2 linked regions of the Homo sapiens genome follow. The protein of the gene in region 1 purifies or fractionates together with the protein of each later gene. This does not show direct contact. Each region holds a gene or a part of one and is shown on either strand. Other genes may lie near its edges. The genes, in order: ZNF668 and ZNF512.

Region 1 (16,330 bases):
CAAAAGTAATGAATGATGTTTCCTGTTCCCTGCTCAAGAACTTTCCATGGCTTCCACCACACCATGCAAATCCCCAGGTCCTTCCTGCTTGTTCCAAATCTGACAAGTCCTTCACTGGAGCCCCACTTCCACCAGGAGGATCCTCAAGCATCTCCCCTTTGGGTTTGGCCCCAATCCCACAAAACTCCATCTTATTCTCACTTGGTTATTTCACTTTTCCCACTAAATCCTAGGGCTTAGCCAGGTGTGGTGGCATGCGCCTTAAGTCCCAGCTACGTGGGAGGCTGAGGCGGGAGGATCCTGTGAACCCAGGGGTTCGAGGCTGCAGGGAACTATGATCGTACCACTGCGCTCCAGCCTGGGCAACCTGGTGAGACCCCATCTCTACTAAAAATAAAAATTAGCAGATGTGGTGGCATGTGCCTGTAGTACTGCCTACTTGAGAGGCTGGGGTGGGAGGACTGCTTGAGCCCAGGAGTTCAAGGCTGTACCACTGCACTCCAGCCTGGGAGACAGGGCAAGACACTGTCTCAATCAATCAATCAATCAATAATCAATCCTGGGGCTTGAAGATAAGTTAAAGGGACTGAATTCTAACCTTTCTGATGACTTGAATTCTTCCTACAGTTTCCAAGGGATCCCTCCCTATTTCTGGATGAGGTACTCACTACCTCTTCCAGACGGTTTCTGGAGAGTCTGCCTGATAATGTTCCTCCTTAATAAAAATGATAGCTTGGGCCAGGTTCAGTGGCTCACACTAGCACTTTGGGAGACCAAGGCGGGTGGATCGCTTGAGCCCAGGAGTTCAAGACAAGGCGGGTGGATCCCTTGAGCCCAGGAGTTCAAGACCAGCCTGGGCGATATAGCAAAATCCCATTTCTACAAAAAATACAAAAATTAGCCAGGCATGGTGGAGCATGCCTGTACTCCCAGCTACTCCAGAAGGCTGAGGTAGGAGAAATGCTTGAGCCTAAGGAGACTGAGGTTGCAGTAAGCCAAGATGGTGCCACTGCACTCCAGCCTGGCAACAGAGTGAGACCCCATCTCAAAAATAAATAAATAAATAAATGATAAAAAAGATAGTTCACATTTACTGAGCACTCGCCAAATACCAGGCAGTATCCTAAACTCCTTATGTGTATTAGCTCAGTTACCCTTCATGGCAACCCCATGAGGAAAGTTCTATTATTCCATTTTCACAGATAAGGGAACCAAGGTCCAGAGAAATGGTTCAGTATTTTGTTAAGTGCCCAGTCCCTGAAGCCAAACTGTCTGGCTTCAGATTTTGCCTCCATCACTTCCCAGCTGATGTGACCGTGTGTAATGTACTGCATGTCTTAGAACCTCAGTTTTCTAATCTGAAAAATGGAGATAATGACAGTACTTACCTGACAGAGTTGGGTGAGGAATGAATGAGTCAAAAATAATTACTGTCCTCAATTATCAAAGCGTCTTCTTAGAGCCAGACACATTGCTGGGTGTGCTGGTTTATTTAATTTAATGTCTTATACCTTTCTGAGATAGGGATTCTTGTCCCTACTTTACAGAGGAATAAATCGAGGTTCCAAGAGTTAAGTGACTTGCCCATGGTCCCACAATGGGTAACCTAAGCAGCTGGGACTTCAGTCCAGGTGTTTAATTTGCCTTAAGTTGCTGGGGTCTTGCTCAGTGGTCTGGGGCCTCTTACGCTTGTCTGCTGCCTCCGCCAGCCCCACAGTGACCAGAACCCTGAGCTCAGGTCATACCTGTGTCTTCTCTCATCCTTGCAGAACTGCCCTGAGACCCTGGCCGGCACCCTTTATGTCTCTGCTTCCCTCTCAGAGGGCTTGACCCAGTGGTTCTGAGCTCTGGCCCTTCTACTGCCTCTTGCCAGCTCTGGGTCTCAGCCTTCCTATCTGTGAGTTAGACACCAGGTAGCTGGAGGGGAAATCCCTCCTCCCATGGCACTTCCCAGGGGAAAAGGTAGGGGAGTGCCAGGTTGGTCTCAGCATGCGCCCAGCTACACAAAGAGGCCAGGTAGGCTAGGTCTCTGTCTAACATCCCACCATTAAAAAAAAAAAAAAAAAAAATATATATATATATATATATATATATAATTTTTGAGATGGAGTCTTACTCTGTTGCCCAGGCTGGAGTGCAGTGGCGCGATCTTGGTTCACTGCAACCTCCGCCTCCTGAGTAGCTGGGACTACAGGCACCTGCCACCACACCTGGCTAGTTTTTTGTATTTTTAGTAGAGACGGGGTTTCACTGTGTTAGCCAGGATGGTCTCAATCTCCTGACCTCGTGATCCGACCGCCTCGGCCTCCCAAAGTGCTGGGATTACAGGCGAGAGCCACCACGCCCAGACTTTTTTTTTTTTTTTTATTAAAGAGCTTGAGGTAGGCCTCAGGAATCTGTATTTTAAATACACTCTGGATCATTCCAGCCAATACTTTTGTTTGTTTGGTTTTGAAACAAGATCTCACTCTGTCGCTCAGGCTGGAGTGCAGTGGTGCAGTCATGGCTTACTGCAGCCTTGACTTCCCAGACTCAAGCAATCCTCCCACTTCAGCCTCCCAAGTAGCTGGGACTACAGGCATGCACCATCATGCCTGGCTAATTTTTATTTTATTTTTAGTAGAGATGAAGTCTTGCTATGTTGCCTGGGCTGGTCTAGAACTCCTGGGCTCAAGTGATCCTCCCACCGCAGCCTCCCAAAGTGCTGGGATTACAGGCGTGAGCCACCGTGCCTGCCCAACCAATACTTAAGAACCAAACACACATCCTTAGGTCTCCACGAGCTCTCAGGAGAGGAGCATTTTAAGTGTTCACTACACCTCTTTTTCAGATATTGAGATTAAGGTCCCCACAAAGGAAAAACTGTACACAAGGACACACAGCTGGTCAAGGAGCCAGACTCGAACCCAAGTCTCCATTCTCTCCCCCAGGTTGAATCATGAGACTTCCCACTGCTCCCAGGAAAAAGACCAATATCTTTTCCATGGCCAGCATAGCCCCAAACCATCTAAATCCTGCCTACCTGGGCAGATCACTTGAGGCCAGGAGTTTGAGACCAGCCTGGCCAACATGGTGAAACCCCATCTCTACTAAAAATACACACACACACACACACACACACACACACACACACACCTGCCTACCTCACCTCCCACTCCTCTCCCTGGCCCACTGGGCTCTACCCACAGAGGCCTCCTTTCTTCTCCTCAAAGAGCTAAATTCCTTCCCACCTCAGGGCAGTGGCACTAGCAGTTCCCTCTGTCTGAGCCACTCTTCTCCCACGATCTTTGTGTAGCTGTCTTTTTTGGTGTTATTTGGATCTCAGCTCCCAGTCACCTCCTCAAAAAGAGCTTTCTTGACCACCTTTCCTTTTCTTCCCCCCTTTTAATATTCCAAATTTTTTCCTTTTTTAACCAACCAAGGAGCACTGAATGACTACCTTTCTCAATGCTATCTTTACCCCTGATAATCATTCTCTATCTACTCTTTATTATTATTATTATTTTTTGACGGAATCTCATGATTATCTATCAAGCAGTTCTCCTGCCTCAGCCTCCTAAGTAGCTGGGACTACAGGTGCCCGCCACCACGCCCGGCTATTTTTTTTTTTTTTTTTTTTTTGAGACGGAGTCTCACTCCGTCACCCAGGCTGGAGTGCAGTGGCACAATCCTGGCTCACTGCAAGCTCCGCCTCCCGGGTTCATGCCATTCTCCTGCCTTAGCCTCCTGAGTAGCTGGGACTACAGGTGCCCGCCACCACGCCCGGCTAATTTTTTGTATTTTTAGTAGAGACAGGGTCTCACTGTGTTAGCCAGGATGGTCTCAATCTCCTGACCTCGTGATCCACCTGCCTCGGCCTCCCAGAGTGCTGGGATTACAGGCGTGAGCCACTGCACCCGGCCCAATCCCGGCTAATTTTTGTATTTTTAGTAGAGATGGGGTTTCACCATGTTGGCCAGGATGGTCTCGATCTATTGACCTCGTGATCCGCCCGCCTCGGCCTCCCAGAGTGCTGGGATTACAGGTGTGAGCCACCGCGCCCGGCCCTTTTTTTGAGACGGAGTCTTACTCTGTCCCCCAGGCTGGAGTGCAATGGCACAATATCTGCTCACTGCAACCTCCGCCTCCCGGGTTCAAGCGGTTCTCCTGCCTCAGCTTCCCGAGTAGCTGGAATTATAGGCGCCCGCCACTACATCTGGCTCATTTTTGTATTTTTAGTAGAGAGAGGATTTCACCATGTTGGCCAGGCTGGTCTTGAACTCCTGACCTCAAGTGATCCACCCACCTTGGCTTCCCAAAGTGCTTGGATTACAGGCATGAGCCACCGCACCCAGCCCTCTTTACTTTTTAAAAAATGTTTTTATTTTTATTTATATATTTATTTTTGAGACAGAGTTTCACTCTTGTTGCCAAGGCTGGAGTGCAATGGCACCATCTCTGCTCACTCCAACCTCCGCCTCCCCGGTTCACGAGATTTTCCTGCCTCAGCCTCCCGAGTAGCTGGAATTACAGGCATCCACCACCACGCCTGGTTAATTTTTTGTATTTTTAGTAGAGATGGAGTTTCACCATGTTGGCCAGGCTGGTCTCGAACTCCTGACCTCAGATGATCCACTGCCTCGGCTTCCCAGAGTGCTGGGATTACAGGCATGAGCCACCGTGCCTGGCTTATTTTTATTTATTTTATTATTTATTGTTATTATTATTTGAGACAGAGTCTCCCTCTGTTGCCCAGGCTGGAGTGCAATGGTGTGATGTCAGTTCACTGCGACCTCTGCCTCCTGGGTTCAAGCAATTCTTCTGCCTCAGCCTCCCAAGTATTTGGGATTACAGGTGCCTGCCACCACAGCCAGCTAATTTTTTGTATTTTTAGTAGAGATGGCCATGTTGGCTAGGCTGGTCTGGAACTCCTGACCTCAGGTGATCCACCCACCTTGGCCTCCCAAAGTGCTGGGATTACAGGCTTGAGCCACCATGCCCGGCCTATTTATTTCATTTTTATTTATTTATTTTCTTTGAGAGAAAGTCTTTGTTGCCCAGGCTGGAGTGCAGTGGCTGCATCTCAGCTCACTGCAGCCTCCACCTCCCGGATTCAAGTGATTCTCCAGCCTCAGCCTCCCGAGTAGCTGGGACTACAGGCGAAAGCCATCACACCTGGCAAACTTTTGTATTTTTAGTAGAGACAGGGTTTCACCACATTGGCCACGCTGGTCTCGAACTCCTGACCTCAAGTGATCCGACCGCCTCAGCCTCCCAAAGTGCTGGGATTACAGGCGTGAGCCACCGTGCCTGGCCTTTATTTTTATTTAGAGATTGGGTCTCACTCTGTCACCCTGGAGTGCAGTGGCTCAATCATAGCTCACTTCAGCCTCAAACTCCTGCACTCAAGCAATCCTCCTGAGTAGCTAGGACTATAGGCACCCACCACCACACCTCGCTAATTTATTAAAAATTCTTTGTATATAGAGATGGAGGTCTCACTACGCTGCCGACAGTGGTCTCAAGAACTCCTGGCTTCAGATGCTCCTCCACTATGGCTTCCTAAAGTGCTGTGATTACAGGCATGAGCCACAGTGACCAGCACCCCTCCTCTCTAATTTCCTTTATGGTGTCATCTGGACAATACTCCTTGCAAGCTTACCATGGGCAAGGTATCATTCTAAGCATTTTGTGCATAATACTCAACTACTCAAGCCAACTGCACAGCTGCCTAGCAGTTCATTATGAGTGAATGTTTGTGTTCCCTGTCCATTCATATATTGAAATTCTAACTCTCATTGTGACTGTATTTGGAGACAAGGCCTTTATGGAAGTAATTAAGGCTGAATGACGTCATAAGGGTATGGCCCTGGTCCAGTAGGATTAGCGTTCTTATGAGAAGTGACACCACAAAGAAACAAGCTTACTAGTCACGGTCCCAGCCAGTGTTCAAATCCCAAACACCTGCTCTCTGAGCCCTGACTATTGCTTTGCTAGCATTACACATCTTATGGTTTGGCTGTTAATTCTTCATCACCAGCACCAGAGTCCAGGCTGGCAAAGGGCTAGGAAACCGATCATCTGCCTCCTCTACACCCAGAACCCTGTGTGGTGACCCAAAACAAATGGAAAGAACCAACCTCAGATGAAATTTGAACCCAGGTCTGTAGCCTCTGCCTCCTCCACAGTAGGAGTTTGTGAGAATGTCCACCAATAACTGTTTATTAACTAAATTCCTCCACCTTTCCAACTCCACAAGGCTCAACTATTGCCCCAATATCCCACAGTGGGCTCCCTGTCGTGGCGATGAAGCCTTGCTTTGCCTCACTACTGGCTTAGGAAGGGGATGAAGTTCTGCTGTCTCACTAGGCAAGCAAAGATTCAATTTCCAAAAATCCTAGGCTAGGACCCTGGGGCAGGGATGAGGAGAAAAAGGAGGCACCTCAATCTTCCCATCTCTAAACAAGCAGTCACCACACAGGCCTCACGGCCAGGAGTGACGTAGTGAGCGGATGAACCCTGCAGAAGTGAGCGCTAATCATATCCTAGGCCTCCTACCGGGCCAGTTCACAACCTGATCCCAACCTACTTTTCCAGCCTCAGCTCCAGCGACAGAGTCCTCCTCCCGGCAGCGACCGAACCTCCAGCCACAATTCTCAATCCTCCACCTCTAGATGCAGTTTCCTGGGCTCGGGGAGCCCTTGCCTGCCTTCTCCAACGGGAAAGCCCCTTTACATCCTTCAAGAACCCCCTTCCCTAGTGCCCTCAGGAATACTTTATGGCAGTAGAGAGGTAAGGGCCCCACGCCGCTCTGGACCTCAGTTTCCTCATCAGTAAAATGGGGTCCCTTAAGTTTGTGGGAGTTTGAAGGGCGGTGGGGCCTACGAAGCGCGCCGAGGAGCCGAGAGTTGCAGAAACCCGGAGCTCCTCGCTCCTCGCAACCGTCTGTACGCGGCGCCCCCGCCAGCCAGGCAGCCCCTGGAGGGCAGGACCCCGGTTATAAGCCTCAGAAAACGTGGCTTCGGAGGACGTGGCAAGGAGGACTGAACGAAGGATGAGGAGATGAACAAATGAATGGACGGAAGGCCGAATGAGGGACAAAGGCTTGCAAGATGGCGTTCTCTAGGACCGCGGGAGTGGTGGCCGGGCCTCAGCAGGGGAGGGGGCCGCCGGCGCCTGGGATCTTGCAGCGCGGGCCACGCGACCGGGACAAAAACCCAAAACATGGCGGGCTCTAGGACCCCCGGGACCACACCGCGCCGGGCCAGCAGCCGCGCGGGCCGAGCCTGGGTGTCCGCAGCCCAGAACCGCGGAGACAGCCGGCGGGTTCTAGGACCTGCTGGGCCCGCAATGCGCCCGGGGCCGCTCACAGCCCGCCCCGCCCGCGCTGCTCGCGCTGGGCCAACCCGGCCCGCCCTCGGCGCCCGCAGGGAAACTGAGGCCAGCTCGGATCGTGGCCGCGTGGGAGCTGCCCGGGGCCCTCGCGGCTTCCCGCCGACGTTTCCTACCTGATGAGACTTGTGCTGACTCCGTGGCGTCGGCGTCGGCTCCTCGCACCGACGGAGCCCGGACCCTGCCAAACAGGGGCCGGCGCTAGGACCCAGCGGGGGGCGGGGAGGTGGGACCGGTGGCGCGGCGAGCGGAAGTGAGGGATCTTCCTCAGCTAGGAAGGAAGGGAAAGTTCCCGGGGAACCTCCAGCCTATGGCGGCAGAGAAGCATCTTGCAAGAGGTCTCTGTGTGTGCTGAGGCAAGGGGACGCCAGGCAGGCTGACGGTATACGCCCGCCTTGTGTTAGTCTGGGGCCAGGTCACCGGCAATGTCTTCAAGAACCAGAAGGTGGGAGGACAAAAAGGCCATGCTCAAGCTCTGCAAAACCTAAGTCCAATTATATTCCACAACATTTCCTTTAATAGCAAGGAGTGGGTTTCACGAAGTTTTCTCCATCTGCCTTGGGAAAAGTCCTCCAGAGAGCCCCACGAAAAGTGTCACCAAAGTACTGTGGCCAGGGCTGTAGAATCTTTTTCTCCCTTTCTGCGCCTATTCAATATGCACCGGAACGATTCTAGCTGCTCTTGCCGGAAGTGTGGCTAGCTTAGCGTGCAAAGACGCCGCGTTGTGACCTACGTGGGCGGAGTCAGCCGTGCAGACCTAGAACTTAGCGCCGGAAGTGTGTCTGCGTAAAACTGCGGCTCGGAGGCGGGACAGGCAGTGCTCCCGAAGCGGAAGTTTCGCGGGGAAGCTTTTGCACCTAAGGACACTTCCTGTTTCCTAGTAACAATAGGAAGTGTCCGTAGAGCTGGGAGTAGACTCCTGGCTCATGCCAGCTGCGCCCTCTTTTCTCTACCTCCTTCCTCTTCCCCCCTTCTCCTTTCCCTCTTTCCCTTCCCTCCCACCTCCCGGGAACCCTGGCTGAGTGTGCGTGTGTGGGAGCGCGAGAGCCCCCCGACAGCCACCCCTTGGGGCGCGCGGCTGCAGTTAGGGTAAGGGTCCCAGTGCGCAGGCGCGCTCTTGTTCGCGGTCCCCAACTGACGCGCCCGCGGCGGGAAGGAGAGGGGGCCGCCGGTGCGAGGTAGGCGTCCTGAGAGGAAATTGGCAGACGAGATGAGTGAGGTCAGAGGACTTCATTGGTGGTTGACTAGGGGAGGGGACTTTTGATCAAAGGGGCTTTGTGAGGTGAGAATTCCGGGGGCAGGTTCAGTGAAGGGGTTTACGGTCGGAGACAGTTGTACTGGGGTCCCATGGGAAGAAGAGTCAGAGTTGGAGAAGGACAAGACGATGTAGGGGGCATGAGAGAGCAAGGGCTTTGGGATGAAGACCGCCTCAGTCAGGGGGTTTGCTGTTACGTGAACTAGAATAACAGGCATTGCCGTGTGTTCTGAGGATTGAGTAACACAATGAATATAGTTAGCACAGTGCCTGGCACATGGTAATATAATACTCTTCATGAGTTGCTGTCATCATCAGTATTAAGAGAGGAGGCAGAAGAAAAAAATGAGAAAGACTGGTGAGGGTAAGATCAGGAGGCATGGGAGAGAAAAGGTAGGCAATGAAGTGACATTACAACCTGGTATTGATGTTATTCCCAAGATGGAAGATAGTTTGAGTTCAAGGGAAGTAGATAAAAGAAGTCGCTAAGAGAGTCTTTTGGGGTTTTTTGTTTTTTTGAGATGGAGTCTCGCTCTGTCACCCAGGCTGGAGTGCTGTGGTGGGATCTCAGCTCACTGCAACCTCCACCTCCCAGGTTCAAGCAGTTCTTCAGCCTCAGCCTCCTGAGTAGCTAGAATTACAGGTGCCCACCACCACGCCCGGCTAATTTTTGTATTTTTAGTAGAGACAGGGTTTCACCATGTTGTCCAGGCTGGTCTTGAACTCCTGAACTCAGGTGATCCACCAGCCTCGGCCTCCCAAAGTGCTGGGATTACAGGCGTGAGCCACCACACCTGGCCCAGTTAAGAGAGTCTTAACTCTCTTAACTCTCTTGTCACAAGGAAAAGAGACCTTGTGACACTGAAATGACTCGGGGTGGTGGGGGAACAAGCCAGCCCTTTCCCTGAAGGAGGCCTCTAACCTCTCCTCTCAGGTCCTCAGCTATTAACTGGAGGAAACAGCTGCTTTTTCAGTGCTTCTCAGCTACTCTGTTTAGCTGAGAGATGAAGTAGGAAGATTTGGACTTCTCTTATTGAAAGGCCTAGAGAAGGTTTTGGTGTCCTTTTAAGATGTCACAGAAAATTTTTGTTTCAGGATTGTAGGGAGCAGATTCCTACTGTTCTTAAAGGACAGTAATGCCTTTTGAGTCTGGTCTGAAGAACATAACAGGTCTGTGATCAGAAGTAGGTTGCATCTCTCTCAACTTTAATTTCCTTAGCTATACCTGTAGGGATGACTTAAGCCTAGGGGAGCTCCTATATTTGGGAAGCTTGTGCACAGGGAAGCCTTAAATGATGGTGCCTGCAGATTGGATCTAGTAGAAATTAGGTCCTTGGGCATGGATGCTTGGGGAACCTCTCAGTGACCTCAGGTGAACTTGTTGCTCGTAGAGCCAAGAGGCGAAGTTAATTCAGGCCTTCCTTTTGACCACTGCCCCCTCTTCCTAGGCCTTGGCCCCTCCACCAGAGGAAGGTGCTGCCACGTGTCTGCTCCTTCTGAACCTCCAGGTTTCTGCTACGTTGCCCCATGGAGGACACACCCCCCTCACTCAGCTGCTCCGACTGTCAGCGCCACTTTCCCAGCCTCCCAGAGCTCTCTCGGCACCGAGAACTGCTCCATCCATCTCCCAACCAGGACAGTGAGGAGGCTGACAGCATCCCTCGGCCCTACCGTTGTCAGCAGTGTGGGCGGGGCTACCGTCACCCCGGGAGCCTGGTTAACCATCGTCGGACCCACGAGACTGGCCTTTTCCCCTGTACCACCTGTGGCAAGGACTTCTCCAATCCCATGGCTCTCAAGAGCCATATGAGGACACATGCTCCTGAGGGCCGCCGCAGGCACAGGCCCCCACGCCCCAAGGAAGCCACTCCACACCTCCAGGGTGAGACGGTGTCCACTGACTCCTGGGGCCAAAGGCTTGGCTCTAGTGAAGGCTGGGAAAACCAGACAAAACATACAGAAGAGACACCTGACTGTGAATCTGTACCTGACCCCAGGGCAGCTTCGGGTACGTGGGAAGATCTGCCCACCAGACAAAGAGAAGGCTTGGCAAGCCACCCAGGTCCTGAGGATGGTGCAGACGGCTGGGGACCCTCCACTAACTCTGCCAGAGCCCCTCCTCTCCCCATCCCAGCCAGCAGCCTTCTTAGCAACTTGGAACAGTATCTGGCTGAATCAGTAGTGAACTTCACAGGGGGCCAGGAGCCCACCCAGTCCCCTCCTGCTGAGGAGGAGCGGCGGTACAAATGTAGTCAGTGTGGCAAGACCTACAAGCACGCCGGGAGCCTCACCAACCACCGCCAGAGCCACACGCTGGGCATCTACCCCTGTGCCATCTGTTTCAAGGAGTTCTCTAACCTCATGGCTCTGAAGAACCACTCTCGACTGCATGCCCAGTATCGGCCTTACCACTGTCCCCACTGCCCCCGTGTCTTCCGGCTCCCCCGGGAGCTGCTGGAACACCAGCAGTCCCATGAGGGTGAAAGGCAGGAGCCACGCTGGGAGGAGAAAGGGATGCCCACCACCAATGGGCACACAGATGAGAGCAGCCAGGACCAGCTCCCCAGTGCACAGATGCTGAATGGCTCTGCGGAGCTCAGCACCTCTGGGGAGCTGGAGGACAGTGGCCTGGAGGAATACCGGCCTTTCCGCTGTGGGGACTGTGGCCGTACTTACCGCCATGCTGGGAGCCTCATCAACCATCGAAAGAGCCACCAGACAGGTGTCTACCCCTGCTCACTCTGTTCTAAGCAGCTGTTCAATGCGGCTGCCCTCAAAAACCATGTGCGGGCTCATCACAGGCCCAGGCAAGGAGTTGGGGAAAATGGGCAGCCATCAGTCCCACCAGCTCCCCTGCTGCTGGCTGAGACCACCCACAAAGAGGAAGAGGACCCCACCACCACCCTGGACCATCGGCCCTATAAGTGCAGTGAGTGTGGTCGTGCTTACCGCCACCGGGGGAGCCTGGTGAACCATCGCCACAGCCATCGGACTGGAGAGTACCAGTGCTCACTCTGTCCCCGCAAGTACCCCAATCTCATGGCCCTGCGCAACCACGTGCGGGTACATTGCAAGGCTGCTCGCCGAAGTGCAGACATCGGGGCTGAGGGTGCCCCCAGCCACCTCAAGGTAGAACTCCCGCCTGACCCAGTGGAGGCAGAGGCAGCCCCGCACACAGATCAGGACCATGTGTGCAAACATGAAGAAGAGGCCACGGACATCACCCCAGCAGCAGACAAGACAGCAGCACATATCTGTAGCATCTGTGGGCTGCTCTTTGAAGACGCTGAGAGCCTTGAACGTCATGGCCTGACTCATGGGGCAGGGGAAAAGGAAAATAGCAGAACAGAGACCACAATGTCACCTCCTAGGGCCTTTGCCTGCCGAGACTGTGGAAAGAGCTATCGCCACTCAGGCAGCCTTATCAACCACAGGCAGACCCACCAGACAGGAGACTTCAGTTGTGGGGCCTGTGCCAAGCACTTCCACACCATGGCTGCCATGAAGAACCACTTGCGCCGGCACAGTCGGCGGCGGAGCAGGCGGCATCGGAAGCGGGCTGGCGGTGCCAGCGGTGGGAGAGAAGCCAAACTCCTGGCAGCGGAGAGCTGGACCCGGGAGCTAGAAGACAATGAAGGCCTGGAGTCTCCCCAAGACCCTTCAGGGGAAAGTCCTCATGGGGCTGAAGGCAACCTGGAAAGTGATGGGGACTGTTTGCAGGCTGAATCTGAAGGGGACAAATGTGGGCTTGAGAGGGATGAGACCCATTTCCAGGGTGATAAAGAGAGCGGAGGCACTGGGGAAGGACTGGAAAGGAAGGATGCCAGTTTACTTGACAACTTGGACATCCCAGGTGAGGAAGGTGGTGGCACTCACTTCTGCGATAGCCTCACTGGGGTGGATGAAGACCAGAAGCCAGCCACTGGCCAACCCAACTCCTCTTCCCACTCTGCCAATGCTGTCACTGGCTGGCAGGCTGGGGCCGCTCACACATGCTCTGACTGTGGGCATTCTTTCCCCCATGCCACTGGCCTGCTGAGCCACAGGCCCTGCCACCCACCAGGCATCTATCAGTGCTCCCTCTGCCCGAAGGAGTTTGACTCTCTGCCTGCCCTCCGCAGCCACTTCCAGAACCATAGGCCTGGGGAGGCGACCTCAGCACAGCCTTTCCTCTGCTGCCTCTGTGGCATGATCTTCCCTGGGCGGGCTGGCTACAGGCTTCACCGGCGCCAGGCCCACAGCTCCTCTGGCATGACTGAGGGCTCAGAGGAGGAGGGGGAAGAGGAAGGAGTGGCAGAGGCAGCCCCTGCACGCAGTCCACCACTGCAGCTCTCGGAAGCAGAGCTGCTGAATCAGCTGCAGCGGGAGGTGGAAGCGCTGGACAGTGCAGGGTATGGGCACATCTGTGGCTGCTGTGGTCAGACCTACGATGACCTGGGGAGCCTGGAGCGTCACCACCAAAGTCAGAGTTCTGGGACTACTGCAGACAAGGCTCCCAGCCCCTTGGGAGTGGCAGGTGATGCCATGGAGATGGTCGTGGACAGTGTCTTGGAGGACATAGTGAATTCTGTCTCTGGAGAGGGTGGAGATGCCAAGTCTCAAGAGGGAGCAGGCACCCCCTTGGGAGACAGCCTCTGCATCCAGGGTGGGGAAAGTTTGTTGGAGGCTCAGCCCCGCCCCTTCCGCTGCAACCAGTGTGGCAAGACCTATCGCCATGGGGGCAGCCTGGTGAACCACCGCAAGATCCACCAGACTGGAGACTTTCTCTGCCCTGTCTGCTCCCGCTGCTACCCCAACCTGGCTGCCTACCGTAATCATCTGCGGAACCACCCTCGCTGCAAAGGCTCTGAGCCCCAGGTTGGGCCCATCCCAGAGGCAGCAGGTAGCAGTGAGCTGCAGGTTGGGCCCATCCCAGAAGGAGGCAGCAACAAGCCCCAGCACATGGCAGAGGAGGGGCCGGGGCAAGCAGAAGTCGAGAAGCTCCAGGAAGAACTTAAAGTGGAGCCCCTGGAGGAAGTGGCCAGGGTGAAAGAAGAGGTGTGGGAGGAGACCACTGTGAAGGGGGAGGAGATAGAGCCCAGGCTGGAGACTGCCGAGAAGGGCTGCCAGACTGAAGCCAGCTCTGAGCGGCCCTTCAGCTGCGAGGTGTGTGGCCGATCCTACAAGCACGCCGGCAGCCTCATCAACCACCGGCAGAGCCACCAGACCGGCCACTTTGGCTGTCAGGCCTGCTCCAAGGGCTTCTCAAACCTCATGTCCCTCAAGAACCACCGGCGCATCCATGCAGATCCCCGACGTTTCCGCTGCAGCGAGTGTGGGAAGGCCTTCCGCCTGCGGAAACAGCTGGCCAGCCACCAGCGGGTCCACATGGAACGGCGTGGGGGTGGGGGCACCCGAAAGGCGACTCGGGAAGATCGGCCCTTCCGCTGTGGGCAGTGCGGGCGGACCTATCGCCACGCCGGCAGCCTCCTGAACCACCGGCGCAGCCACGAGACGGGCCAGTACAGCTGCCCCACCTGCCCCAAGACCTACTCCAACCGCATGGCCCTGAAGGACCACCAGAGGCTGCACTCAGAGAATCGGCGGCGACGGGCTGGACGGTCCAGGCGCACAGCTGTGCGTTGCGCCCTCTGTGGCCGCAGCTTCCCTGGCCGGGGATCTTTGGAGCGGCACCTGCGGGAGCATGAGGAGACAGAAAGGGAGCCAGCCAATGGCCAGGGAGGCCTGGATGGCACAGCGGCCAGTGAGGCGAACCTGACTGGCAGCCAGGGACTAGAGACCCAATTGGGTGGTGCTGAGCCAGTACCCCACTTGGAGGATGGAGTCCCAAGGCCAGGGGAGCGCAGTCAGAGCCCCATCAGGGCAGCAAGCTCAGAAGCCCCAGAGCCACTGTCCTGGGGTGCAGGGAAGGCAGGTGGGTGGCCGGTAGGTGGGGGACTGGGGAATCATAGTGGAGGCTGGGTTCCTCAGTTCCTAACTAGGTCAGAGGAGCCAGAGGACAGTGTCCACAGGAGTCCTTGCCACGCTGGTGACTGCCAGCTCAATGGACCTACTCTGAGTCACATGGATAGCTGGGACAACAGAGACAACAGCTCTCAGCTGCAGCCAGGGAGCCACTCCTCTTGCAGCCAGTGTGGCAAGACTTACTGCCAGTCAGGCAGCCTCTTGAACCACAACACCAACAAGACAGACCGACACTATTGCCTGCTCTGCTCCAAGGAGTTCTTAAATCCTGTGGCCACAAAGAGCCACAGCCACAACCACATAGACGCCCAGACCTTTGCCTGTCCTGACTGTGGCAAAGCCTTTGAGTCCCACCAGGAACTGGCCAGCCACCTGCAGGCTCATGCCCGGGGCCACAGCCAGGTGCCAGCCCAGATGGAGGAGGCCAGAGATCCCAAAGCCGGGACTGGGGAGGACCAGGTGGTTCTCCCTGGTCAAGGGAAAGCCCAGGAGGCCCCATCAGAAACCCCCAGAGGCCCAGGAGAGAGTGTGGAGAGAGCCAGGGGAGGACAAGCGGTGACGTCCATGGCGGCTGAGGACAAGGAGCGGCCCTTCCGCTGCACCCAGTGCGGGCGCTCCTACCGCCATGCTGGCAGCCTGCTGAACCACCAGAAGGCCCACACCACAGGGTTGTACCCGTGCTCCCTCTGTCCCAAACTTCTCCCTAACCTGCTGTCTCTTAAGAACCACAGCAGGACCCACACGGACCCCAAGCGCCACTGCTGCAGCATCTGTGGCAAGGCCTTTCGGACAGCTGCCCGGCTGGAGGGCCACGGGCGGGTCCATGCACCCCGGGAGGGGCCTTTCACCTGCCCCCATTGTCCCCGCCACTTCCGCCGCCGAATCAGCTTCGTGCAGCACCAGCAGCAGCACCAGGAGGAGTGGACGGTGGCCGGCTCCGGTAGGGGGCATGAAGGGTCCCAGGAGGAGGTGGGCACACAGTGGAGGGGGAAGTCCAGCCCCAAAGTCGGTGGGGGAGCAAGGAGTGAGAGGAGAGAGCCCCGGGGATTCTAAGAGGTGGGTGGGGGCTTGGCTATGGGGTGAGAGAAGTAGCTTGAGGATGTGCTGAGCTGAGCACCCGCAAGTCAGGTATAACAAATAGCAGGGTGGGTTGGGCAGCACGTGGGGGCGTGGTCAGGCCGAGGCTGCTACCTGGGCTCCTCCATTACACTGTAGCCAGAATGGAATGGTCTTTCTGTTCAGGGGAAGGTCACTGGGTACCCCCTGGCTGCTGTGTCTGGAAACCCTCCTGAGTCAGCCAGTAAAGTAATGACTTCCAGAGAAAAAGAGGAAGCCATTGGTTTGGTCTAGGTTCCATTCTTTCCTGGAGCAGGCCGGGTGCCAGGGAACAAGGGATGGGGCATGGGCTCCACGGCTTCCCTGCTGACTTGGCCACGGAAACTGGTTCACTGGTTGGCACCCTACTCCCTGTCCCTCTTTCCCTGCGCCTTGTCTCTGCTGCTCCTCTCCTTGGAAACTAGACCTCTGGTCCTTCCCTGTCAGTGTTGCTCCCATCTCTTCTCTAACCTTTATTCAGCCCCTTTTCCCTCTGCTGCCAACGGCCTTTTTAGGATCCAACCAAACCACCCTTTCTACCTGCGCACCCTGCCACCCTCTGCACACCTTTAACTGGAGGACTGAGTCACAGATAATTGTTTCCTTGAAGTCCAGGCCCAGCTGCAGCAACAACAGTCATTAGCC
Region 2 (15,816 bases), on another chromosome or scaffold:
TACACATAAATGATCACTTTGCAGCCCAAGTAGACATTCCTTCCTAGATTCATCTAATAAAAGAAAGTAGGTGAAGCAATAAAGGTGTTCTATGACCCTTCAGAAGACTCCCTGGATTTGTAACCTGGTATGTCCCAGCCTCTCTCTTTCTCTGACAGAGGGATGGCAACTAAAGGGTATCTCTAAGGGAAAGGAATAGTCTGTGGGCCCTAATCTGACTCATCTTCCTTCTGCCTCAGCATTCTCCCTAAAACCTGATGCCCTATCTTATTTAGGCAACATGATACTTAGCTTCCACAGCTAAAGGATGGATGCTATCTTGCATGAATTAACCTGGCCAGAGATTTCTGGTATACAGCTGAATCCAGATTCCAAAATCTAAGACCAGTCAGTATGACAGCTAAAAAACATTACTCTGTAACTACAAAGCATCAGACATTCTTCTAGGTGGCTCAAGATGCAGCAGAGCAGCAGTTCTCCAAGAGTGGTCAATGGACTCCTAGAACCTCCCTTTTCCAGCTAAATACCTGTGAGGCCTACTTTAGATTTATGGTTCAGAAAGATCCTTCTGGCTGCTCTATGGAGACAGCCCATGGGAGAAAGAGTAAACAAAAGGAAAAAAGTTAACTTGAATTGGCAGATTCAAGGTAACACTTTAGATGTAGAGCTAATAAGAATTACACATAGAGAGGTTTGCTTATGACATCAGGGAGTTGGAAGTAACACAGTGACCATCCTTGCAAAATGTGATAGATGCCTACTATGGAATACTGTGCTGCTGTTAGAAGCAATAAACTAATTCTACACATAGAGACACGACCATAACTAAAAAGTATATTGTTGAATGAAAAAAGAAACAAAACAGTATCTCTAGCACAATGTCAGTTCAGCAAGCTAAAAACAAATCCACACATAAAGCAGCTTATTTTAAAGCTTATTTTTTAAAGGAGTCATAAATATTTAAGTGCAAACATCACACTTGTTTATACAGTTTCCTCTAGGAGGGAGGGGATGGAAATGGGGATGAGTAAACATAACAGAGACTGGTTATGTCAGTATGTTACAAATAGGGAAGAATGAGTTTCGGCTCTCCACACATGAGGTCCAATAACACAAATTTAATACACAGAAGTCCTGGCTCTGGAGGGGCAGCTAAGCCCACTAAGGCCCACCCCTCCTGCTCACTGGACTCTGTAAAACAAACAAAAACAAGTAAATTATGCAGGGGAGTCAAAGTTGGGAGAAGTGCCCCAAATGGGGTGAGTTTTCCAATTCTGTCTTTTTCCCTCAAGTAAGAATTTGCAATGAGGATGAACCCCACTTGCAGAGCAGCATAGGCAGCTTTAATTCTAGAAACTCCCTTCTTTCTTACCAGGTAAATCAGGAAAAAAGGTCCCTGTGGACCAGAGTTGGGGGACTGGGGGTGGGAGGAATGCTAGAGAGAAAACAGGCAAAAAAAAGAATCTCTTAATTCAATGTATGAATCCAAATAAGTCACAACTTAACCTTAGCCATGAATGTGTGGCATATACCCATACGTACCAGCCTAGCAAAGACTTTGAAAACCAAAATGAGATTTGAACTCTAATGTGACCCAAACCAAAGCAGCAAAAGCTTGGAGAACTGAAATAAGATTGGAAACACCTGCAGAAGTCTCAGACCAGCCCCTAAGCTATTCATGTTTGGGACAGCTCAAATCAACATAGCAAAGACATAAAGAACAGAACCGAGATTTTAACAAATGCCTCCAAAAGCAAGACAGAAGTTTTGGCCTGAACCTGAAGCAGGGTGGCCTGCTAAAACAGAAACGGCAACATTCCCCAGAAGAATTATAATAGGACCCAAAATCTACACAAAAAGTATTCACAATGATGAGGATAAATTCCAAAATTATGCAACACATAAAGAACCAGGAAAATGTGAGCAATTTTCAAAGGAACAAATGACCAAAACATGCCAGCCACAAGGTGATCCAGATTTTGGGACTATCAAATACTGTCAACAAAAAAGAAATACTTTCTTATAAAGAAAACACACAAGAAATGAAGGAAAAGGTGGGAATCATCAGCAGAAAAAGAAACCATAAAAAAGAACCAAATGAAATCTTAGAACTGAAAAATACAACATCTGAAATAAAAACTCATCAGATAGGTTCAGTAATAGAATGGAGATGACAGAGGAAAGAGTCTGTGAACTTGAAGACCGTTCAATAGAAATGACCCAGTCTCCACCGGGCACAGTGGCTCACGCCTGTAATCCAGCACTTTGGGAGGCCGAGGCAGGCGGATCACAAGGTCAGGAGTTCGAGACCAGCCTGATCAGCATAGTGAAACCCCGTCTCTACTAAAAATACAAAAGAATTAGCCAGGCCTGGTGGTGGGTGCCTGTAATCTCAGCTACTCGGCAGGCTGAGGCAGGAGAATCGCTTGAACCTGGGAGGCGGAGGCTGCAATGAGCAGAGATCGCGCCGCTGCAGTGAGCAGAGATCGCACCACTGCACTCCAGCCTGGGCGACAGTGCGAGACTCCATCTCAAAAAAAAAAAAAAAGAAAAGAAAAGAAAAAAAACCAGTCTGAAGAACAAAGAGAAAAAAAGATTGAAAAACATTCAACAAAACCCTAATACCAAACGTTTTAACTTAAGTGTAGTTGTAATCCCAGAGGGAGAGGCGAAAGATACTAATGCAGCTCTCGCTCTCCCTCTCCCCGCTCTCCTCCCTCTCCCTTCTTCGGTCTCCCTCTGTTGCCAAGGCTGGACCATACTGCCGTGATCTCACCTAGCTACAACCTCCCTACCTCGGGCTCCCCTGATTCTCCTGCCTGGGCCTGCCCAATGCCTGGGATTGCAGGCACGCGCCGCCACGCCTGACTGGTTTTTGTATTTTTGGTGGAGACGGGGTTTCGCCGTGTTGACCAGGCTGGTCTCCAGCTCCTGACCTCGAGTGATCTGCTCGCCTCCGCCTCCCGAGGTGCTGGGATTGCAGACGGAGTCTTGCTCACTCAATGCTCAATGTTGCCCAGGCTGGAGTGCAGTGGCGTGATCTCGGCTCGCTACAACCTCCACCTCCCAGCCGCCTGCCTTGGCCTCCCAAAGTGCTAAGACTACAGCCTCTGCCCGGCCGCCACCCCATCTAGGAAGTGAGGAGCGTCTCTGCCTGGCTGCCCATCATCTGGGATGGGAGGAGACCCTCTGCCCGGCCGCCCCGTCTGGGAAGTGAGGAGCGCCTCTGCCCGGCCGCCACCCCGTCTAGGAAGTGAGGAGCGTCTCTGCCTGGCCGCCCATCATCTGGGATGTGACCAGCGCCTCTGCCCGGCCGCCCTGTCTGGGAAGTGAGGAGCGCCTCTGCCCGGCCGCCCTGTCTGGGAGGTGAGGAGCACCTCTGCCCGGCCGCCACCCCGTCTGGGAGGTGAGGAGCGTCTCTGCCCAGCCGCCACCCCGTCTGGGAGGTGAGGAGCGTCTCTGCCCGGCCGCCACCCCTTCTGGGAGGTGAGGAGCGCCTCCGCCCGGCCGCCACCCCGTTTAGGAGGTGAGGAGCGCCTCTGCCCGGCTGCCACCCCGTCTGCGAACTGAGGAGTGCCTCTGCCCGGCCACCACCCCGTCTGGGATGTGAGGAGCGCCTCTGCCCGGCCGCCCTGTCCGGGAGGTGAGGAGTGCCTCTGCCTGGCCGCCCCATCTGGGATGTGAGGAGCGCCTCTGCCCGGCCGCCACCCTGTCTGGGAAGTGAGGAGCACCTCTGACTGGCCGCTGTGCAATCTTCCAAGTGTGAAGTGACAGCCTTTCTGCAGGTGTACCCAACAGCTCCGAAGAGACAGTGACCATTGAGAATGGGCCATGATGATGATGGCGGTTTTGTCGAAAAGAAAAGGGGGAAATGTGGAGAAAAGAAAGAGAGATCAGATTGTTACTGTGTCTGTGTAGAAAGAAGTAGACATAGGAGACTCCATTTTGTTCTGTACTAAGAAAAATTCTTCTGCCTTGGGATGCTGTTGATCTATAACCTTACCCCCAACCCTGTGCTCTCTGAAACATGTGCTGTGTCAACTCAGGGTTAAATGGAAAAAAAAAAAAAGAAAGAAAGAAAGATACTAAGGCAGAAAAATACATTTGAAAAAAAAAAGGTGGAAAATCCCCCACGTTTGGTCAGATATAAATTTACAGATTCAAGGAGCTCAACAAACACCAAATAGGATAACTCAAAGAAAAACATACCAAGATACATCTTTTTGTTTTGTTTTGAAACACAGTCTTGTTCTGTTCTCCAGGCCAGAGTGCAGTGGCACATGGCTCACTGCAGCTTGGACCTCTCTGGCTCAAGTGATCCTCTCACCTCACCATACCCGAGTAGCTGGAACCACAGGTGCACACCATCATACCCACTAAATTTTTGTGTTTTTTCATAGAGACAGGGTCTTGCTATGTTGCCCAGGCTGGTCCAAAGCACTTTTTTTTTTTTTTTTTTTGAGACAAGGTCTCACTCTGTCACTCAGGCTGGAGTGTAGTGGCTCAAGCACAGCCTCCACCTCCCAGGCTTAAACAATCCTCCCACCTCAGCCTCCTGAGTAGCTGAGACCACAAGTGTGTGCCACGGTACCCAGCTCATTCTTTTGTGTGTGTGTGTGTGTGTGTGTGTGTGTGTGTGTGTGTGTGTGTGTGTGTAGAGACAGGGTCTCACTTTGTTGTCCAGGCTGGTATCAAACTCCTGGGCTCAAGCAATCTTCCTACCTCAGCCTCCCAAACTGCTGGGATTACAGGCATGAGCCACGGTACCCAACCAAGACACATCTTAACGAAACTATTCAGCCAGGAAGGGGAGGGGAGACATGAGGGAGTGAAGAGAGGAAAAAAAGAAAAAGAATATAAATGTATCAGCCAGGCGTGGTGGCTCACGCCTGTAATCCCAGCACTTTGGGAGGCTGAGGCAGGTGGATCACCTGAGGTCAGGAGTTCACGACCAGCTTGACCAACATGGAGAAACCCCGTCACTACTAAAAATACAAAATTAGCTGGGCATGGTGGCACATGCCTATAATCCCAGCTACTCAGTAGGCTGAAGCAGAAGAATCGCTTGCACCTGGGAGGCAGAGGTTGTGGTGAGCCAAGATCGCGCCATTTGCACTCCAGCCTGGGCAACAAGAGCGAAACTCTGTCTCAAACAAAAAAAAAAAAAAAAAAAAAAAAAAAAAAGGTAAACATGGTAAATTATATGGGTATACTTTAACTCAATAAAAAATAAACTAGGCCAGGCATGGTGGCTCACACCTGTAATCCCAGCACTTTGGGAGGCCAAGGCAGGCAGATCACTTGAGGTCAGGAGTTGGAGACCAGCCTGGCCAATATTGTGAAACCCCACCTCTACTAAAATACAAAAATTAGCTGGGTGTGGTAGCGGGTGCCTGTAGTCCCAGCTACTTGGGAGGCTGAGACAGGAGAATCACTTGAATCTGGGAGGTGGAGGATGCAGTGAGCCGAGATCATGCCACTGCACTCCAGCTGCCCTGGGCTACAGAGCGAGACTCCATCTCAAAAAAAAAATAAAAATAAATAAATAAATAAAAAAACTAAGCTGGGTGCAATGGCTCAAGCCTGTAATCCCAGCACTTTAGGAGGCTGAGGCAGGCAGATCCCTTGAGCCCAGGAATTCAAGAACAGCCTGGGCAACATGGCAAAATCCTACCTCTATTAAAAATACAAAAAATTAGCCAGGTGTGGTGGTGTGCACCTGTAGTCCCAGCTACTCAGCAGGCTGAAGTGGGAGAATCACCTGAGCCCAGGAGGATGAGGCTGCAGTGAGCAGAGGTTGCGCCACTGCATTCCAGCCTGGGCAACGGGAGTTAGGCTCTGTCTCAAAAAAATTGTTTAAATAAATAAGAAACTATTCAAAGCCAAAGATTTTGTTTTAAACTAGAAAGCTTCAGAAAAGTGACATATTACATTACAGGAAATGATTTAAATGACCATGGGTTTCTCAACAGAAACCAAGAATGCCACAAGGCAGTACAGTATCTTTAAAATCGAACCAGTGTAATGGCTCACATTTGTAATCCCAGTACTTTGGGAGGCCAAGGCAGGGGGACTGAGCCCATGAGTTCAAGACCAGCCTGGGCAACATAGCAAGACCTTGTCTCTACAAAAAATAATTTTAAGGCTGGGCGCGGTGACTCGCGCCTGTAATCCCGACACTTTGGGAGGCCGAGGTGGGCAGATCACAAGGGCAAGAGATCAAGACCATCCTGGCCAACATGGTGAAACCCCATCTCTACTAAAAATACAAAAGCTGGGCGTGGTAGCATGCGCCTGTAGTCCCAGCTACTCGGGAGGCTGAGGCAGGAGAAATGCTTGAACCCGGGAGGCGGAGGTTGCAGTGAGCCAAGATACACCACTGTGCTCCAGCCTGGTGACAGAGCGAGACTCTGTCTCAAAATAATAATAATAATAATTTTAAGAACTTAATTGTACATTTTTAAATAACTAAAAGAGTGTAATTGGATTGTCTATAACACAAAGGATAAATGCTTGAGGGGATGGATATCCCATTCCCCATGATGTGATTTCACATTGTATGCCTGTATCAAAACATCTCATGTACCACATAAATATATATCCTTACTATGTACCCACAAAAATAAAAATAAAAAAATTTTAAAGCAATTATCCAGGTGTGGTGCCATGCAACTATAGTCCCAGCTACTTGGGAGGCTAAAGTGAGAGGATCCCTTGAGCTGAGGAATTTGAGGCTTCAGTGAGCTATGACCGCACCACTGCGCTTCAGCCTTGGCAACAGAGTGAGACCCTGTCTCTAAAAAGAAAAAAGAAAAGGAAAAAGAAATATCTTTAAAATTTTGAGAGAAAAAATTTGTCAACTCAGAATTCTATATTCAGTGAAAATATCCTAAGAAATAAAACTAAGAGAATTCATTGTAAGCAGACCTGCTCCATATGAAATGCTAAAACAAATGATTCCAGCTGAAGAAAAATAATACCAGAGAGAAACTTGGATTTTTAAGAATGAAGAAAGAGCAACAGAAATGGTAAACAGGCCGGGGTAGATGGCTCACACCTCTGTAATCTCAGCTACTTGGGAGGCTGAGGTGGGAGGATCACTTCAGCCCAGCAAGCAATGAATGTGCCACCAACTCCAGCCTGGGCAACAGAGCAAGACACTGTCTCTTAAAAAAACAAGAGTAGGGGCAGACACTAAGCATTCAAATAATCCAAAAGAAGAAACACAGGAACAAAAAACAATGGATAAACAGAGAACAAAAAATAAAAGGGCAGACCTATCCAACCATATCAATAATTAATTTAAATGTTTACAGTCTAAACACTCCAGTTAAAAGTCAGCAAATGACAGAGTAAAATAAAAAGTGATACCCTACTACATGCTACCTACAAGAAGCACACTCTAAAATATAAAGACATCTATAGATTGAAAATAAACAGATGAAAAAATTGTATCATACAATCAGCAAACATAAGGCTGGAATGACTATTTTAATATCAGATAAAACAGACTTCAAGACAAAGAGTACTGCCAGAGATAAAAAGAGACACTTCATAATGACAAAAGTGTCAAATCATTGGGAAGGCATAATTACCCACTGTATGTGCCTAATAATAGAGCCTCAAAATACACAAAGCGAAAACTGACAAAATTAAAGGGAAAAATAGACAATTCCACAATCTTAGCAGAAAATTTAAGACCTCCCCCTTTCAGCAACTGATAGAACTAGATAAAAATTCAGTAAAAGACATAAATGATCTGAACTGCACTATTAGCCACCTTGCTCTAGTTAACATTTACACAACACTACATCTAACAACTGCAGGATATATATTCTTTTCAAGTGCACATTATGCATTCATTAAGCTAGATCTTACGCTGGGCCATCAACTTTAACTTTTATTAAAAGGATGAGAATTACACAGTGTATTCTCTGACCACATTGGTATCAACTTAGGAGTCAATAATAGGAAGATATCTAAAAACAAAAAACACAAAAAATCCAAATATCTGCAAATTAAATAATCTACTTCTAAATAATTCATAGGTCCAAAATGAAATCACAAATGAAATTTGAAAATATTTTGCACTGAAAAACAACAAAAATATGCATATCAACATTTGTAGGATGCAACTAAAGCAATACTTAGAAACTTAAAGCTTTAAATGCTTATACTAGAAACGATCTAAAATCAATGACTTAAGATTTCATCTTAAGATACCTTAAAAGGAAAAGCAAAGTAAACCAAAGAAAAGGTAAGGTAAGAGGAGAAACCCATGAACTAGAAAACAGACAATAGGGGAAATGTGGTTCTTTGAAATGATCACAAAATTGACAACCCTGTAGCTAGACTTAGACTGATCTACAAAAAAAGACACTACAAATAGCCAATATCACAAATGAAAAAGGGGTTACCGCAGATTATGTAGACATTAAGTAATAATATACTTTGAATAACTTTATGCTAATCAATGGAAAAATTACAATGAACAAATTTCTTTAAAAATACTACTTACCAAAACTGACACAAGAAGAAACTGGAAATCTAAGTAGCCCTATATCTATTAAATAAACTGAATTTATGAAATCCTTCCCACAGTGAAAACTACAGGCCCATGTAGTTTCACTGCTGAATGCCATTGCAATAGGTTTAAAACAAGATCAAAAGGAAAAAAGCAAAACTGTCCCTACTTGCAGATTATATGATTGTTTACAAAATAAATCCCAAGGAATCTACAAAACAATTACTAGAACTAATAAATTAATTTATAAAGTGTCAGGATACAAGGATAACATACAAAGTCAACTGAATACTTATATACTAGCAACAATCAACTAGAAAATGACATTATAAAAATAATACCATTTACAATTACATCAGTAAAACATAATATACCTGGGAACAAACCTAACAAAAGACGTTCCAGACTTTTAAAAACAATGAAACTACAACACATTGCTGAGAGTAATTAAGAAGACTTAAAGGGGAAAATATAGCATGTTCATAAATCAGAAAACTCAATATTGTTAAAATAGCAATTTTCCCCAACGGAATCTATAGATTCAATATAATACCAATCAATACTCAGCAAGCTTCTTTTAATAGATATTGGCAACCCAATTCTATACTTCTTATAAAAACGCAAAGAACTGAGAATAACCAAAACAATTTTGAAAAAGAACACTAAAGTTAGAGGACTTACTGATTTCAAGAGTCTAAATAAACATCAGTAGAACAGAATAAGGAGAGTCCAGAAACAGACCTACACATATACATGTCCAAGTGAAGTTTGACAAAGATGCCAAGGCAATTCAGTAGGGAAAGAAAACTCTTTCCAACAACTGGGTATATAAATAGAAAAAAAAGTCAACATTGACCCTTACCATAAAACATTCACAGAAATTAACTCTAAATGAGTCACAGACCTAAATATAAAACCTATAAAACTTCTAGGAGAAAAGACCACAGAAAATCTCTGCAATTAGGGAGGCAAAAGTTTCTTTTTTTTAATTATTATTATTTCTTAAGACGGAATCTCGCTCTGTCGCCCAGGCTGGAGTGCAGTGGCACCACCTTGACTCGCTACGACCTCCAGGGAGGCAAAGGTTTCTTAAATAGGATACATAAAAGCATGAAATGTAAGAAAAAAATGATAAATTTAAACCTTTTGCTCTTCAAAAGACATCATTAAGAAAATGAAAGACAAACCAGACTGGAAGGAAGTATAACAGACAAACGAGTTGTATTCAGGACAGATTTTTTTAAATACCACAATTCAATAAGATAACCCACTTTTTTTAATGGACAAAAATGTAAACATTTTACAAAAGTAGACACACAAATGGCCAATAAGAATAGGAACAGATGAAGGCTGGGCGCGGTGGCTCACACCGTTAATCCCAGCACTTTGGGAGGCAAAGGTGGGCAGATCACCTGAGGTTGGGAGTTCGAGACCAGCCTGACCAACATGGAGAAACCCCGTCTCTACTAAAAATATAAAATTAGCCAGGCGTGGCGGCACATGCCTGTAATCCCAGCTACTCCGGAGGGTGAGCAGAAGAATAGCTTGAATCTGGGAGGCGGAGGTTGCAGTGAGCCGAGATTGCACCATTGCACTCCAGCCTGGGCAACAAGAGTGAAACTCTGTCTCAAAAAAAATAAAATAAAAAAGAATATGAACAGATGCAAAAAAAAAAAGATCAAAAAAAGAAAGAATACGAACAGATGCTCAACATTATTATTCATATATGATGAATTAAAAACCACAAATTAGGCCAGGTGTGGTGGCTCAAGCATGTAATCCCAGCACTTTGGGAGGCCAAGGTGGGCAGAACACTTAAGGTCAGGAGTTCGAGACCAGCCTGGCCAACATGGTGAAATCCCATCTCTACTAAAAATACCAAAATTAGTCAGGCGTGGTGATGCACACCGGTAATCCCAGCTACTCAGGAGGCTAAGGCAGAAGAATCAGTTAAACCTGGGAGGCAAAGGGTTCGGTGAGCCAGGATCAGGCCACTGCACTCCAGCCTGGGTGACAGAGGGAGACACTGTCTCAAAAAAAGAAAAAAAAAAAAAAAAAACCCATGAATTAAAACCACAGTGAGATACCACTACACACCCATTAAATTAGCTAAAATTGAAAAGACTGACTCATACATTGCTGGTAGGAATGCAAAATAATACCACTTTGGAAAGCAGGTAGTTTCCTAAAAAGCTAAACATACTCCTGCCATATGAATCAACCAACCTAGGATGGTAAATACCATCTTAGATATTTATCAAAAGAAATGAAAGCATTTGTCCACACAAGACTTGTACATGAACGTTCACAGCAGCCTTATTGTTTGACACCCTAAAACTGAAAATAACTCAAATGTCAATCAAGATAGATGGCTAAACAAATTATGGTATCCATAATGGAATTCTACCCAGCAATAAAAACTATTTGTCATCTCAAAATCATTATTCTGAGTGAAAGAAATCATGAAAAAAATGAGAACATACTGTGTGACTTCATTTATATAAAATCCTAGAATATGCAAACCACTGTACAGTGGTGCCCGTGGACAGGAGTGGAGGAAGAAATGGCAGAGACATGAACAAACTTTTGAGAGAGATGAAAATGTTTATTATCTTGATTGTGGCAATGGTTTCACGGGTACAGACATACGTCAAAGCTGACCATAGTGTACGCTTTAAATATGTGCAGTCTATTGTACTCTAATTATACCTCAATAAAGGTATTTTTAAAAATTAATGGACTGGCAGGCCTCTAAGGCCAAAACCTACCATCCCAAACAATGCTAGAAACACTTGATGGGACAGGCGCAGTGGCTCATGCCTGTAATCCTAGCACTTTGGAAGGCCAAGATGGGCGAACTGCCTGAGCTCAGGAGTTCAAGACCAGCCTGGGCAACACTGTGAAACCCCTTCTCTACTAAAATACAAAAACTTAGCAGGGCACAGCGGTGTGCACCTGTAATCCCAGCTACTCGGGAGGCTGAGGCAGGAGAATTGCTTGAACCCAGGAGGTGGAGGTTGTGGTGAGCCGAGATCATGCCACTGCACTCCAGCCTAGGCGACAGAGCAAGACTCCATCTCCAACAACAACAACAACAACAACAACAACAACAAAGACTTGATGGTACCAACAGGCCATTAAGAGCTGAGTCCCATGTAATAACTCTTAGGAAACTCTCCATGTAGGAATTTCTTACTATCAGTGTAGGACTCAGAAATACAGTACCCATATACCCTCTTATGAATAAGCATAAGCATACTGAAAAGGCAACAGTTCATATGATCATAATTAACTCTTGGAGATTAAATCAAGGTGGTTAGGGAATCCCTCCTCCAGGTCTCATGTTTTATTTTTAAAGCACTCAACAAAAACAATTCTCAAGTATTTTACAATATCTACCCATCAACCCCAGGACATTTGATTATTTGTAAAAAAAACCAGATTAAGCTCAAACTTCCCTTTCCATACATATAACAAGAAAAAGCTTTGTTGTGATACAATGACTATCATAATTGCATTTATTTTATAATTTGTTGCCACCAGTGTGGCAACTCTCAGCTTCTGATCACAAACATAAAAAGTTTAGCCTATTTTCAACTCCTTTCTGATCTACCAAAAATTTTTAAGAGCCCCTAGCTCATTCTTCCATGTGCAAATATTTAGATTTCATTAGAAAAGTACTTTAGTTCATCTCGGTATCCTTTGTAAACTTATTTAATTCTACCCAATCTTTAAAAGCTAGTGTTCTCCATGATTTCCTCCTCTACTCTTCTCTGGTCTCACTTCTCACCATTGACTCTCAAATGTCACAATCTCCTAGGAAGCTAGTTAAAAGTAAAGATTTCTATGCCCTAAACCCAATGATTCCAAATCTGGTTAATGGATGGGGGCCTAATAATCTTATTTTTTAACAATTATCTCTAGGTGACCAAGGTACATACTGAGAAACATTGCTCTAACCACTTTAACTAGAAGAGCTCATTAAAACTCTCAGCTTGTGGAAGAAAACATCATGTTTCCAATTATTTTTTATAGCTGATAATTCCCAATTCTGTATTTCAGACCAGCTCTTCATCTGAGGTCCAAACCTATTTGTTTTTGTTCCAAATGTTGCTCCTCATTCAGAAATTTGTAGTTCTGTGAATTACTCCAAAATTCACCTGATGGCCAAAGCCAGAAACCCATAGACATCCTATCTTCCTTCTCTTACTCACTTCTCATCATCACCACCTGTACATTCCCTATACGTTGTTCCCTACGTATTCCCTGTATATTGTTCCCACCATAGGCTACATGTTCTTTATTCATCTCTTAGGTTATCATAATAACCTCTGAACCAGTTTCCCAGTACCCTTCCAAATCCATCCTTCATAATGCTGCCAGAGTGGCCTAAGACCAATATCTGGCTATGTCATTCCCTCATTATCTCTTCCAGGATAAAATCCAAACACTTTAGCATGCCGTAACAGGTCCTCCATGGTCTAGCCCCTACTAACCTCTCTAAACGCTCTCCCTGCAATCCCTCATCCTCTATCCCAGACATACAGAACTACTTACTATCCCATTAACTCTTTCCACACGTTCACATGCTGTTCTCTGTTCTGAAAAACCTTTCTCCTTCTCACTAACTGCATGATTCCTCAACTTTCAAGTTTCTACTTAGGAGTGACCTGCTCTGATAATCCTTCCCTTCCAAACTATCACTCCCCTTCCTCAAAGGCTAAATTAAATTCCTACTTAAAAATACTTACTTATTACAATGAACTGTGTTGACCTACTTGCCTATCTCCCCTTCTAGACTGCTAGTTGTTTTTCATGCCTGTATTCCTAACCTACTACAGAACTGGCGCACAGCAAACATGTAGTAAATGTCACCTGAATGAATGAATCCATTTAATGTCTAGTTAACAAGAATGTTTTCTTTTGTATTAACCATGGAAAAACTAAGCACCTTCAGTGTACTAAATAATAAACCAGTCTTACAGACAAGTAGTTTAAAAATACAAGGATTTCTTACGGCCATTTTTATCATCCATCCCAAGTTCATCAGTGTATTTATGAGCACGAATTTCATGTCTGGAGAAATACAGAATTACCACTGAGTCTTTGGTTCCATTTTTATTACAATTTGTACTTTTTTTTTGCAAGCTAGGTTTTTCTCCCACACACTAGACTTAGACCTACACTGTCCAATCCGATAGCCACGAGCTACAGGTGGCTATTTAACGTTAGTTAAAATTAAATAAAATTTAAAATTCAATCCCTCAGTCGCACTAGCCACATTTCAAGCGCTCAAAAGGCGTACGGGGCTAGTAGCTATGATACTAGACAGTGCAGATACAGAACATTTTCGTCACAAGAAGTTCCACTGGACAGCGCTGGCCACAAAATCACAAAAGAACCTTAGAAAAACCTCACTCACTTGGCAAATAAAATTTAAAATTCAGTCCCTCAGTTGCACTAGCCACATTTCAACTGCTCAAAATCCACACCGGGTTAGTGGCTATGATACTGGACAATGCAGATACAGAACATTTTCATCACAGGAAGAAGTTCTACTGGTCAGCGCTGGTGACACAATCATAAAAGGACCTTAGAAAACCTCACTTACTTCTTAGCTCCCACGATCCTCGTGCTCCTCTGCTGCTTAAAGGTTGTGGGTCCCGAAGTCTAGCAAATCACAAGCACACGAGTGAGTGCTAGGGACCTCTGAACCTCGACCACAAAAAGACGAATTCCCCTATGCCCAGAAGAAATGAAGTTCTCCCGGGGAAACCACCTCAAACACAAGAAGGCAACACCTTTTAGGAAAAATATGCTGTCCTATCTTCCAGCAGTGCAAAGGCGGGTAACAATACCAGAGCCTTCGTCTTCCCCCATTCTCAAAGCCCTGTCCCAGGCTCTAAAAGGGAGGCCAAAAGAAAAGACAACGGATATGAGAGACATTGGGGATGTAAAAGGAATAGAAACTAATGGTAATGTGGCGAGGAATTAAATCCAAGGAGGTGGGGAACAGGCAGCAGAACGTGGGTAAAGAAAAAGGGACAGGTGATCTGATCTAGAAGGGTGGGGCCTACGATGGCCTCTGATAAAACCAACTCAGCATGGGACAAAAGCGAGGGACCGCGTGTTCCGGGCTCGACAGCGCTACCTCTAAAGCATAACGGTCAAACCAAGAAACTCACGGCGGGTACAGCACCGAGTCTGGAAGACATCACTCCCTCTCCACGCCTAACAATTTCACCCAAGGGCTCCGGCCAGACCAACGCCACTTCCGCTCTCCTCTCCCGGATGTGGGCTCGGCTCCGCCTAGCCCTCTTCTGAACTTCTACTTCCGCCTAGCAGCTTCCGAGGGGGCTGCGGCCGGAGCGAGTCACGTGATGAGTCACCCTCCGATTCCTCTGAGACCCCGCCCCACTGGGATCGCGACGCGGGACCCGGGAACCTATGGGTGGGGTCTGGAGTGAAGGGGCGGAGCTTGGAGCCTCGGCTGGGCCTCAAAACCCCTGGCTCTCATTCCGAATCTTTGCACAACTCCTCGTGTCCCTCCAGCCTGCCTTCCCCATCCACCCGCCCAGTGGTCTCAGTCCAGATGCACAGGAAGATCATTTACTGCCCCTTTATTCATCTTAGAGAAATTACAGACCCATTCTCACCCGCCTCCCCCCCGGTAGAGAGAAATGGAAGCCTTTCCACGCTGGGGGCGCAGGAATTGGAGGCAGTGGCTGAGCAGGAAAGAAGCCTGGAAAGGGCAGCACGATGAAGACTTAGGACAATGAATAATAGGGGCGGACCTCGCCTCATCGAGTAGCTTCAGGCCTCCACACTTGCCCTGCTTTGGGATTTTTATGTGTGGTCCCGAGGAGAGTTGTTTGATTCTTGAAATCTCTAGACAAACTATGGCTGGGCCTCTCTCCAGGGAAACTGTACTTGAGTCCCTCCTTAAGGGGACTGCGTCGGCTCCTCTCAGAGGGACTGCAATGGTTCCTCCCAGAGGGCCTCCCTGGCCTCATCTCAGAGGGACTGTGACGGGTTCTCTCACAGGAACTGCGATGGCTCCTCTCAGAGGTCCTCCCTTGCCTCATCCCGGAGGGACTGCGATGGCTTCTCTCAGAGGGACTGTGACAGGTTTTCCCAGAGGAACTGTGTCCTCTCCTCTCAGAGGGACTGCAACGGCTTCTTTCCAAGGGACTGAGGTGGCTCTTCTCTGAGGGACTGTGACTTCTCTCAGAAATCCTACGATGGCTCCTCTCAAAGGACCTGTGAGATCTCCTCTCAGAGGGACTGCGATG

What was found.
Region 2: the proteins of ZNF668 (region 1) and ZNF512 purify together in Homo sapiens (affinity purification with mass spectrometry; 2 studies listed by BioGRID and IntAct, with this or other methods). This does not show direct contact.

Annotation. Positions count from the first base shown.
Region 1 is NC_000016.10:31,066,172-31,082,501, forward strand, and holds the start of ZNF668 (zinc finger protein 668), read right to left. Parts: upstream 8,070-16,330; 5' UTR 7,488-8,069; intron 7,332-7,487; exon of another isoform or gene 6,516-7,331; intron 1-6,515. Other genes in the region: ZNF646 (zinc finger protein 646), read left to right, coding at 10,154-15,530. UniProt on the Homo sapiens protein: May be involved in transcriptional regulation. May play a role in DNA repair process.
Region 2 is NC_000002.12:27,582,036-27,597,851, reverse strand, and holds the start of ZNF512 (zinc finger protein 512), read right to left. Parts: upstream 14,811-15,816; 5' UTR 14,740-14,810; coding exon 14,710-14,739; intron 14,427-14,709; exon of another isoform or gene 14,326-14,426; intron 14,195-14,325; coding exon 14,136-14,194; intron 1-14,135. Other genes in the region: SPATA31H1 (spermatogenesis-associated protein 31H1), read right to left, coding at 15,325-15,816. UniProt on the Homo sapiens protein: May be involved in transcriptional regulation.